Homo sapiens: one gene and its partners. The protein of the gene in region 1 purifies or fractionates together with the protein of each later gene. This does not show direct contact. Each region holds a gene or a part of one and is shown in the gene's direction. Other genes may lie near its edges.

Region 1 (2,867 bases):
AGGGGTTGGCGGGGGTGGGGGGGGTGGTCTGTGATGGCCCCCTGCTGAGCCAGAGTGACCCCTACAACCGGTCCAGGGGTCCACGGACCAGAAGGCCAGGTTCTCCTGGAGGTCCCATCTCCCCTGGGCCTCGGTTTCCCCTTCTGTGACTCCACACCCCCAAGGAGGGCCCTGTCAGGGAGGGCGGGGGGCACTGGTTAATGTCCAGGACATGGCTGTCCCAGTCAAGCCAAACCCCTGGAATGTGCTGAACTGGCTACACTGAGCGGGGCTGGCCTCCGAGACAGAGGGGCCTGCCGAGGACACGGAGGCTCTGTGGAACCCAGGGAACTGGTCACACTGAGGACACGGAGGCTCTGTGGAACCCAGGGCCTGGCCACACTGAGCACGGCTGGTCCCCCAAGACAGAGGGACCTCCTGAGGACACAGAGTCTCTGTGGAACCCAGGGCCTGGCCACATGGAGGACACGGAGGCTCTGTGGAACCCAGGGCCTGGCCGTGGCAAGGAAGCCCCAAGCCAAGTGTGTGTCAGCCTTGTCCTCTCTGTGGGCCTCAGTTTCCCCTCTGTGCAACAAGGGGAGTGACCAGCTGGTTTCTGGAGTCTCCTCCTCTCCCTCTCTGTCCCCAGGGGTGGGCCTGGGCCTCATGTCTGCAGGGGGTGCTGACACCTGCTCCTGTGGTCCGGGCCTTGGGGAGGGAGCCAAGTGCAGAGAGAATGTCTTGCTTGTGCCTGCTCAGCCCAGAGGGACACATGGCGTCTGCACCTGCTTCCCGCTTGGGCACAATTGCCCTTTGAGAGCAGAGCCAGGGGCTTCTTGGGGACGGAAGCTGCTCTCAGAAGCCGCGCACTGGTGGTGGGGGAGCGGCAGGAAGGGGCCGGCCAGCTGTCCTAGCCAAGAGCCTTTCAGGAACCGGTGGCCCAGGGCAGAGGTGGCTGGAGGTGGAGCTGTCTGTTTGGGCCTCAGGTGTCGGGGCAAGGCCTGCTTGGGTTTTACACGAGTGTTGCGCCTTTACCCGGGTCTCTGTCAGTGGGTCCCGCCTGACCCGTGGGTGTGCATGGGTCCCCGTCGTAGGCAGGCGTTCTGCCCTGGCCAGGCGTGGTGTCCGGCATCCGGCCATCTCCCTCCTCCCTCCTTCCCTTAGCCCCGCATCCAGGTGCCCCGTGTGCCCGGCCTGGGCGGCTGGCCGTGGATCTGACCGCTCCTGCATGGTGGAGGACCAGCGTTCCCACTGTCTGCAGCTGTGCCACCTCCCTGTGCCGGGCTGTGCGTGCTCACGCTCGGCTCCGTCTGCCTTTGTGCGATCAGACTGAGAGACCCCCCAGGCAGGTCCCGCCTGCAACAAGCAGACCCCATGCGTGCCCCAAATGCCCCCTCACCCGGGCCCTGCCCTGGTGGGTGTTGCCTGGGAGCAAACTCCCAGAATGGCCGCCGGGCCCCACTCGGCTTTGGAGCTTCTGATTCCTGTGGGCGCTTCTCAGGTCAGGGCCCTGCAGGTGGGAAGCACCAGGCACTGGAATGAGGGCACTGTGGGGCCAGCTGCCTGCAGGCAGGGGTCTGATCACCAAGCACCTGTCCCCTGCAGGATCCCTGGCTGTGGCTCCCCCGATGACGTTCAGGAAGTGGGAGCCGATCCCCTGTCCCCAGAGAGCCCCGTGACTCCCCCGATGACGTTCAGGAAGTGGGAGCCGATCCCCTGTCCCCAGAGAGCCCCGTGACTCCCCCGATGACGTTCAGGAAGTGGGAGCCGATCCCCTGTCCCCAGAGAGCCCCGTGGCTCCCACAGGTCCCTGTGGGCTCACCTCTTTGTGTCTCTGCTGTGGCTTCCACGGTGCTGTGGCCTCTATTCTGGGGACACTGAGCTCCTCCTTGCTCGAGGTTTTGGGTCCTCATTGTCCACATGACCTCCTGCTGGGCGAATTCTGGGATGACCCTGTGTCCTGGGCACATGGCTGGCAGGGTCCCGGGGGCTCTCTGGCCAGCCTCCCCTGCACCCTGGCACCAACCAGCCTGGCCGAGGGTCAGCTCCCAGAGCCGTGTTGAGAGGGGAAGGGGCTGATTCCACAGACATTTGGGGTGGAGTGGGTGCGAGGGAGGGTGGGGGAGGGGCTGCTCCAGATCTGGGGTGAGGGAGTCAGAAACAGGGCTGACCCCAAGGTGGGTACAGGAAGAGGCCCAGGTGTGGGCAGGAGCTGTCTGCACCTCCTGAGCGCATTCCCCAGTCCAGACCGGGAGCGAGTGTGGGGCTCCCTGGGCCTGTCTTGCTGACCTGTGGCCCTGTACTGACCAGCAGAGCATGGGGGTCCCTCGTACCCCTTCACGGACAGTGCTCTTCGAGCGGGAGAGGACGGGCCTGACCTACCGCGTGCCCTCGCTGCTCCCCGTGCCCCCCGGGCCCACCCTGCTGGCCTTTGTGGAGCAGCGGCTCAGCCCTGACGACTCCCACGCCCACCGCCTGGTGCTGAGGAGGGGCACGCTGGCCGGGGGCTCCGTGCGGGTGAGTGAGTGGCCGGGGGCTCTGTGTGGGTGTAGTGGCCGGATCTGCTGGGGCTGCACACCCCGGGATGGGGCGGGGGTGGCGGCGGCAGGCAGATGCCCGAGGTAGAGATGAGCAAACCAGGCTCAGCGATCCTGGGTGCCCTGCGGGGGGCTGTGCCCAGGTCCCTGGACGTCCTGGTCAGCGGAACTTCCTCCTCTGGGCAGTGGGGTGCCCTGCACGTGCTGGGGACAGCAGCCCTGGCGGAGCACCGGTCCATGAACCCCTGCCCTGTGCACGATGCTGGCACGGGCACCGTCTTCCTCTTCTTCATCGCGGTGCTGGGCCACACGCCTGAGGCCGTGCAGATCGCCACGGGAAGGAACGCCGCG
Region 2 (3,507 bases), about 79 Mb from region 1:
GGTTGTCTTTCATGTTAGGTGCTTTTCTCAGTTATCTGATGATACTGCTTTGCTCTTATTTTAACTAAATTGCTGATTAGAAGCCCTGAGATCATGGTTAGGCATTGATTGTGGGCTTCACTGTATGGTGATTTGGCTGGGCAGTTTTGTCTTGGAACTCTGGGTGTCAGTATCTTTAGGGATTCCCTTTTGGACTGGGTTTTCAGTTGACCTTCTGCCTGGAAAGGAGAGGTGGACTCAGAAGGGTTCTCAAATCTTTTGTAAATTGTCCTTTAATTGCCTTGCTTTTAGAAGATAGCCCTGTCTCAGCTCTGGTATCTTACATTTCAGAGACTCCTCCAGAGAATAAAATTCCAGATTTCTGCTGGGTTGGAAGTAGGTGTAGCATCCATCCAACTGAACCGAGGCAGGGAGGGGATATGAGGCTTAGAATGCTCCTTAGGTAGACATTCAGCCAATTCTTCTGTTTTTATCTCCACTTTCACACCCACTTTCAGAAGTACTGCCAATTCTTTGGCATTTGGGGTCTTCTCCAAGGGTTGCTTCTCAGCTTTTCTCATTACAAGTTCAGGAATCCATTTTCTCAGATCTAGGTTGGTTAACTCACATCCATCAGCTCTTCAACTTGCAAAATTTTGTTACTTTGTTTCCTGTCTAATTCTCTTTTTCTCTAAAGTTTTATGCCTTAAATCAGTTTACTCTCCATTCTAATGGGCTATGGGGAGGAAGTGAAAAATCTGTCAACTTTCCTGAAAAGTCTGTCTCTCCACTCTTTGTCCTAAATATTTCTTCTTATACATACACATTCCTATTCTGAGATTGAAGATCTGCTCATTTGCTGATTCAGTTTTAGCGATCTATTATCATTAATTCGGATTCTCCCACTTTATGAATGTGTGCCAAGTTAATTGTAAAGCAAAATAGATATTATTTACTTGCCCAAAAGAGGAAATACCATTCCAGAAATTTCTCATGTAATCCCCTCACTCTGACAGTTGTATAGCCTTAGCTTTGTAAACGTGGGGAACTGCCTTTCTGGGTCCCAGTTTCTTCCTTTTTTACAATTGGAACTATTATACGTTTAGCATGTTTATGTGAAATCATGTAACACACGCCACCTTACTCATGCTAAGAACACATTGAGTATCTATTGAGTTGTCAATTTGAAAATACTACAACCAACAATTCTAACATTGATACTATATTAAACATTTAAAGAAAATCAGCAATTTTAACTCTTGGAATGTCTTATAATTTTTTCTTTAGTGGGTCTAAAATTTAGCTGAAATAATTTTCTGCTTTTATAAAATGTTAAGATGTTATGGATAAAATAATTTTGAAAATTTTCATTCATTCATATTAACAAGCTGCTATTAAGCACTTTGTAAATTTAAACTGTACTAACGTGATGTTTTCTTTATCAGGGCATGAAATTAGTCTTGAGATATGTCAGCATACAAATTGAATGTAATTGGATTAGAAAAATTAGAAAAGGATTAGAAAAATTGAATTTTATCAATAGGTCATCAGTTGTAGTTCTATAAATATGAAAGTGTTAATATTTCAAATCACCCCTGGTTTTAAGATAGCTTGTATTGATTTTTTCTTCCTTTTTTCTCCCCCCAACCCCCGAGAAAAACCAGTTGCTTCAATTCAGATGCTCATTTTTTCTTACTTGGTCTATTACAATAAATTACCAATGGACTTACCTATTTCCAATATCATCTCACTTTATATTTTATTCATTGTAAACTAAGTTTCTAAAATGGAAATTTTAGAATTTCCCTTCTGCTTCTGAAAACACTTCAGTGGCTTTTCATTGGCCCAAACTTTTTGGGGGTAGTATTCAAAAGTTTCATGATTTGGCCCTCATTTGCCTTTCTGATGTCATCATATGTCACTCTCTCCCATATACTTTAATGCAAGTTTTGTGATCTCTGAGTACATGTCAAACTTCTACTTTAACTCCACTTGTCATTTGTGTTATGAAGACTGGAAGCCTTCCTTTTCCCCAGGCTTGGGTGAAGCCAAGTGCTTTACATACCTGGAATGTCTTTGTCACAGTAATTTTCAGTTAGTTTGTAATTGCTCATTTAATTAACTTAGTCCCCTCACTAGATGTGAGTACTTTGAAGGCAGTAATTTTTTTTAAACAATGGGTGCTTAACATTCAATAATAGCTTGTTGATTGTGGTGATTTTATATATTTTGGCAGTTTTTTAATGTTTTATTTTGAAACTGGAGATTGTCATAATTTTACATAGATAAAGTTGGGCATACTCTAATTTAAATATTGAATATGTTTTACAGCCTTCAGTTTGGAAACCTGCAGAATTATGATTGCCATGTTGGATGTATCCTTGAATAGAAATAGAAAATACTAGAATAAAGAGTAATTGCTTTCTGACTATCAAGCCAGTGGTTAGATTTCAGTGCCTGTAGTAAACTAGTGAATTTAAAAATACTTTGTAAGATCCTGTTTAAATTCTAGGCTTTCTAGTTTTTATGCAGAAGTCTGTTCATATAATGAGTTTGGCTAAGTCTACAGAAGCATACTCATGTTTTAGTCAATGATTTAGAGTCAGATAAACTCAGGTATCAGAATTTATTTTTGTTAATAAAACTATCAGAGAGATCACACAGGAAAAATGGGATTTAATGCATTCAAAGAGCTATGGGCAGCTCTTAATGCCTGGAAGGAAAACTTCATGACTGTTGATCAAGATGGAAGTGGCACAGTAGAACATCATGAGTTGCGTCAAGCCATTGGTCTTATGGGTAAGAACATTAACATTCTTTAGAATCTATAAAGCTAATCTTTGTTCTTTGATTAGATGAACTTAATTGCTTCAATTTACTAACTAATAAAGGGATGTATTTTTTTGCCAGCAAGTTCCTTTGTTTGTTTTCAAGGTTGTAGGTAAATTCTGACCAAAGACCTCAACAAAACCATTTTAATTATGATTTTTTTCAAAAGATGATCTTCCATACATGCATACATTCTGAATTTCTTCTGTTGTGTTTAAATTTATTTCTTTGTTAGTACTTACCAGTTAGATTGTATTCTTTTATAACTTGGCAGGATATCTAATTGGGAGCCAAAGCTTGCCTCAGTCAGTCAAAAGTCTGTACAAAATAGGTTTTCAGTGGTAGAAACCATGTTTTTGTCTTTTTTTTCTTAGATAGTGCAGAACACATAGCAGGTGCCAAAATACATCAGGATGGAAAGGTTGCATTTTAGAGTAATTTAGAAGTATATAACTTTATTCTTATACCTCTGATAAGCTGATGTTCCTAGTGTACTTTTAAAATGGATAACATACAATGGTGTTTAATTTGCTTAAACTTAATGCAGTTTTAAGTAGCTTTATGAATTGTTCTTATGCTTGTGATTTACACTCTTCTAAACAAAATCTATTTGTATGAAAATTAATTTTTTGGAAGTTAAAATCTGAACCCAATGGAAGTGGGCTTATCTCAAATTGCAATTTAAATAAGTCAAATTAG
Region 3 (3,507 bases), on another chromosome or scaffold:
GTGGAGTTGGAAGGGCTCCCTAGTACCATCTGCGCCCACCCCTGCCCAGGGCTAGGCTCTTCCTGCATGGCTTGCTGCCTCACGAGATGGCTCCTTCCTCTCCTGTACAGTCCCAGAGTAGAAGGTTCTTCCTTGTAGTAAACCACAGCCTCTCTCCCATTCAACTCTATTTTCCATTTCATATTGGTCCTGCAAAAAGCAAAGTCTTTGAGGCCCAGTGACACTCAGTTTTAGGCTAGGTTGACTACAAATTAAATACTTGGAAAGCAACTCTTAATTTTCCCATTGACTTCCGTTAGAACATTGGAAGATATCTGGATCTGCAGACTCTGCTAGACTGGACTGAAACATTTTGGGTGAGAGAGGAACTAAGAAGGCCACCCTTGGTACTGGCATGTGAGGTGTGGTTGAGCCAGGGAGCTGAACCTATGGAGTGCTTCCTCCTCCAACAGTTTGTGGCTGCTTTTGTAGTACTCAGCATTTCCCCTAACTTTCACCACTCATGGAGGACTCCCAGGTTCCCACGTGGGACTCCTGGAGCTCTGTACTGCACCTGGGTTTGTCTGAGATTTACAATGTCTAATACACTTCACCTAGGCTGTCATTTTTTCATTATAAACTAGAATCAGAGATATTGTATTGCATCCTCAGATTTTCCTGAGTGGTATTTAAGTTGCTATTATAGTGGTACTATAAAGTCAGGATTCCATATATTCAGTCTACATAGGATAAAAATGTCTATGTGACACCAGGTGTGGTGGCTCATGCCTGTAATGCCAGCACTTTGGGAGGCCGAGGCAGATGGATCACCTGAGGTCAGGAGTTCGAGAACAGCCTGGCCAACATGGTGAAACCCCATCTCTACCAAAAATATAAAAATTAACCAGGCATGGTGGCACACACCTGTAATCCCAGCTATTCGGGAGGCTGAGGCAGGAGAGTCACTTGAACCTGGGAGGCGGAGATTGCAGTGAGCTGAGATCATGCCATTGCACTCCAGCCTGAGCAACAAGAGCAAGACTTTGTCTCAAAAAATAATAATAAAATAAATCTATGTGACAAAATCTATGACTTAATATCTCTGTGTCTTGATTTTTTATTTAAGATGTTTTCTTATCAAATTAACACATGCTTGTTTAAAAATATTTGAAAAAATAGAAAAGCTGGAGGAAAAGGAGTCATCTATGGCAACACCTAAAACTAAAATAGCTGTTAACCTCTTCCTGAATCTCTTTTGGGTATACAGTGTATACTTGTTTTTTGTCTTTTTTTTAAAAAATGGGATCATAAAATACAGTTTTGTAACCTATTCCTAATCTCCTGTTGTAAATGTAGTCAGCCCTCCATATATGTGGGTTCTGTATCTGTGGATTCAACCAGCCACAGTTTGAAAATATTTGAAAAAAAAAATTGCATCTGTACTGATGATGTATAGATTTTTTTTTTTTGAGACAGAGTCTCGCTCTGTTGCCCATGCTGGAGTGCAGTGGCACGATCTCGGCTCATTGCAAGCTCCGCCTCCCGGGTTCACGCCATTCTCCTCCTCAGCCTCCCAAGTAGCTGGGACTACAGGCGACCACCACCACACCCAACTAATTTTTTCATATTTTTAGTAGAGACAGGGTTTCATCGTGTTAGCCAGGATGGTCTTGATCTCCTGACCTTGTGATCTGCCTGCCTTGGCCTCCCCAAGTGCTGGGATTACAGGCGTGAGCCCCCACACCCAGTGGATGTATAGATTTTTTGTTCTTGATATTTTTCCCTGAACGATACAGTATAACCACTATTCACTTAGTATTTACATTGAATTAGGTATTATAAGCAATCTAGAGATGCTATAAAGTATAGGGGAGGATGTGTGTAGGTTATCTGCAAATACTGCACTGTTTTATATCTGGGACTTAAGCATCTGCAGATTTTGGTATTCATGGGGGTCCTGGAACCAATCTCTCGCAGATATCGAAGGACAAGGCTATCATGTGTTTCTAGTGTCTGCTTAGCTAGCTGGCCCAAGCCCCTAGATCATGCAGAGACACAAGCTTCACAAAGCCCTCTTCTCTGAGACTGGGCAGGCTGTTTCTAAGCTGTTTTGCATGGCTCTTTTTGCTACTTCGGATTTACTTGCAGAGGTCTTCTCATTAATTTTTCTTAGCTTTCGTCTGTTTATTTTGTCTGTCTGTTCACCATTCCCATCCTTTGGCCTTTTCCTCAGCCATGTTAACAAGGCAGGTGTAGGGCAGTGGGGCCCCAGCTGGAGTCCAGGTATCTGCCCCAGGGTTGAGTCTGCATTCAATGGGGTGACCATAGGGCCCCATCTGTTACTTGGTCTTAGCTGCCCTTTTGGGAGCCACGTCCCTAGCTGTCATGCCTTGGGAAGGTGAGTTTACCTGGGCACATAAGCATAGTTCTGAGAGCAGCCTCTCCTTCTCTCAGTCAATCGGCACACTCTCTTTTCTGCTTTCAGGGCAAGTTTCTGGCTTTTTATCAGTATGCAAAATCATTTAACTCAGATGACTTTGATTATGAAGAGCTGAAGAATGGAGACTACGTCTTCATGAGGTGGAAGGTAAGTTCCCACCAGGTGGCCCTCCAGACTCCCAGCAAGCCAGGCCCTGTATCGCACCTACATATTCACTCTAACCAAGGGCTCCCCATGTCCAGTGCTCGTCACAGCTGGTTGTCATGGCAAAGTCTTCATGGCAGGGTCTTTGCACGCCTATAAAAAGTGGGCCCAGCTCCAGGGCACGCACTGGTTAACTGCCGATGTCCCAGACAGCTCCTCCTCGCTGTGCTTTTGGTGGGTAGCAAGTGGATTTGGGCCTAGGTGGCTGCCTCTAACATTGTCTTCTCCCTTTCCTTTCTCCCACCCAAGAATCTTGTTGAACCCCCAAGTTGAATCACTCCAAGTGTTCTGTGGATTCAAGGCAGAGCCAAACTTGCTTTGAACTTAGTCATCAGTTGTACCCAGATCCCTCTACAGGCTTAAACACCATCCGTGGGCCAGGTGCCCTCCACCACATCCTTTTCCCAGAGCTCAGGAAAGTCTCACCTCCTCTACTTCCCTCCAGCTCAGGAAATGAGGGACCGGGAATGGAACACGGGTTTTTGACTCAGCAGACCTCAGAGAGCCCCACCTGACTGACTTGATGGATTGGCTTTTAGCTGCGAGGTCATTTGTGCTCCCTGCTTTGATAACGTGATATTTACAGCCCCAGAATAGCAAAATCAGGAAGCCAGTTTGTTAAATAACTTTGAGAACATACCAACCCCTAGTCCCCAGTCTGCAGGGAAAAAGTCGTTTTATCTTGAAATCTTGTCAGCTTTCATAAAGATGAATCATATTGAGTTGCCTTTCCTGGTCTTTATTTTGCATAGCTAACCACTTTAGGAAGTGGGGATCGGCCGGGCGTGGTGGATCACACCTGTAATCCCAGCACTTTGGGAGGCTGAAGCAGGCAGATCATGAGGTCAAGAGATTGAGACCATCCTGGCCAACATGGTGAAAAC

The links. The genes of interacting proteins can lie anywhere in the genome.
Region 2: the proteins of NEU4 (region 1) and GCA purify together in Homo sapiens (affinity purification with mass spectrometry; 2 studies listed by BioGRID and IntAct, with this or other methods). This does not show direct contact.
Region 3: the proteins of NEU4 (region 1) and GID4 purify together in Homo sapiens (affinity purification with mass spectrometry; 2 studies listed by BioGRID and IntAct, with this or other methods). This does not show direct contact.

The regions. Positions count from the first base shown.
Region 1 is NC_000002.12:241,812,190-241,815,056, forward strand, and holds part of NEU4 (sialidase-4), read left to right. Parts: intron 1-1,143; exon of another isoform or gene 1,144-1,324; intron 1,325-2,289; coding exon of another isoform or gene 2,290-2,295; coding exon 2,296-2,496; intron 2,497-2,702; coding exon 2,703-2,867. UniProt on the Homo sapiens protein: Exo-alpha-sialidase that catalyzes the hydrolytic cleavage of the terminal sialic acid (N-acetylneuraminic acid, Neu5Ac) of a glycan moiety in the catabolism of glycolipids, glycoproteins and oligosacharides.
Region 2 is NC_000002.12:162,354,128-162,357,634, forward strand, and holds part of GCA (grancalcin), read left to right. Parts: intron 1-2,310; coding exon 2,311-2,354; intron 2,355-2,630; coding exon 2,631-2,778; intron 2,779-3,507. UniProt on the Homo sapiens protein: Calcium-binding protein that may play a role in the adhesion of neutrophils to fibronectin. May play a role in the formation of focal adhesions.
Region 3 is NC_000017.11:18,056,404-18,059,910, forward strand, and holds part of GID4 (glucose-induced degradation protein 4 homolog), read left to right. Parts: intron 1-299; coding exon of another isoform or gene 300-623; exon of another isoform or gene 624-1,068; intron 1,069-2,464; coding exon 2,465-2,566; intron 2,567-2,872; coding exon of another isoform or gene 2,873-2,896; exon of another isoform or gene 2,897-3,345; intron 3,346-3,507.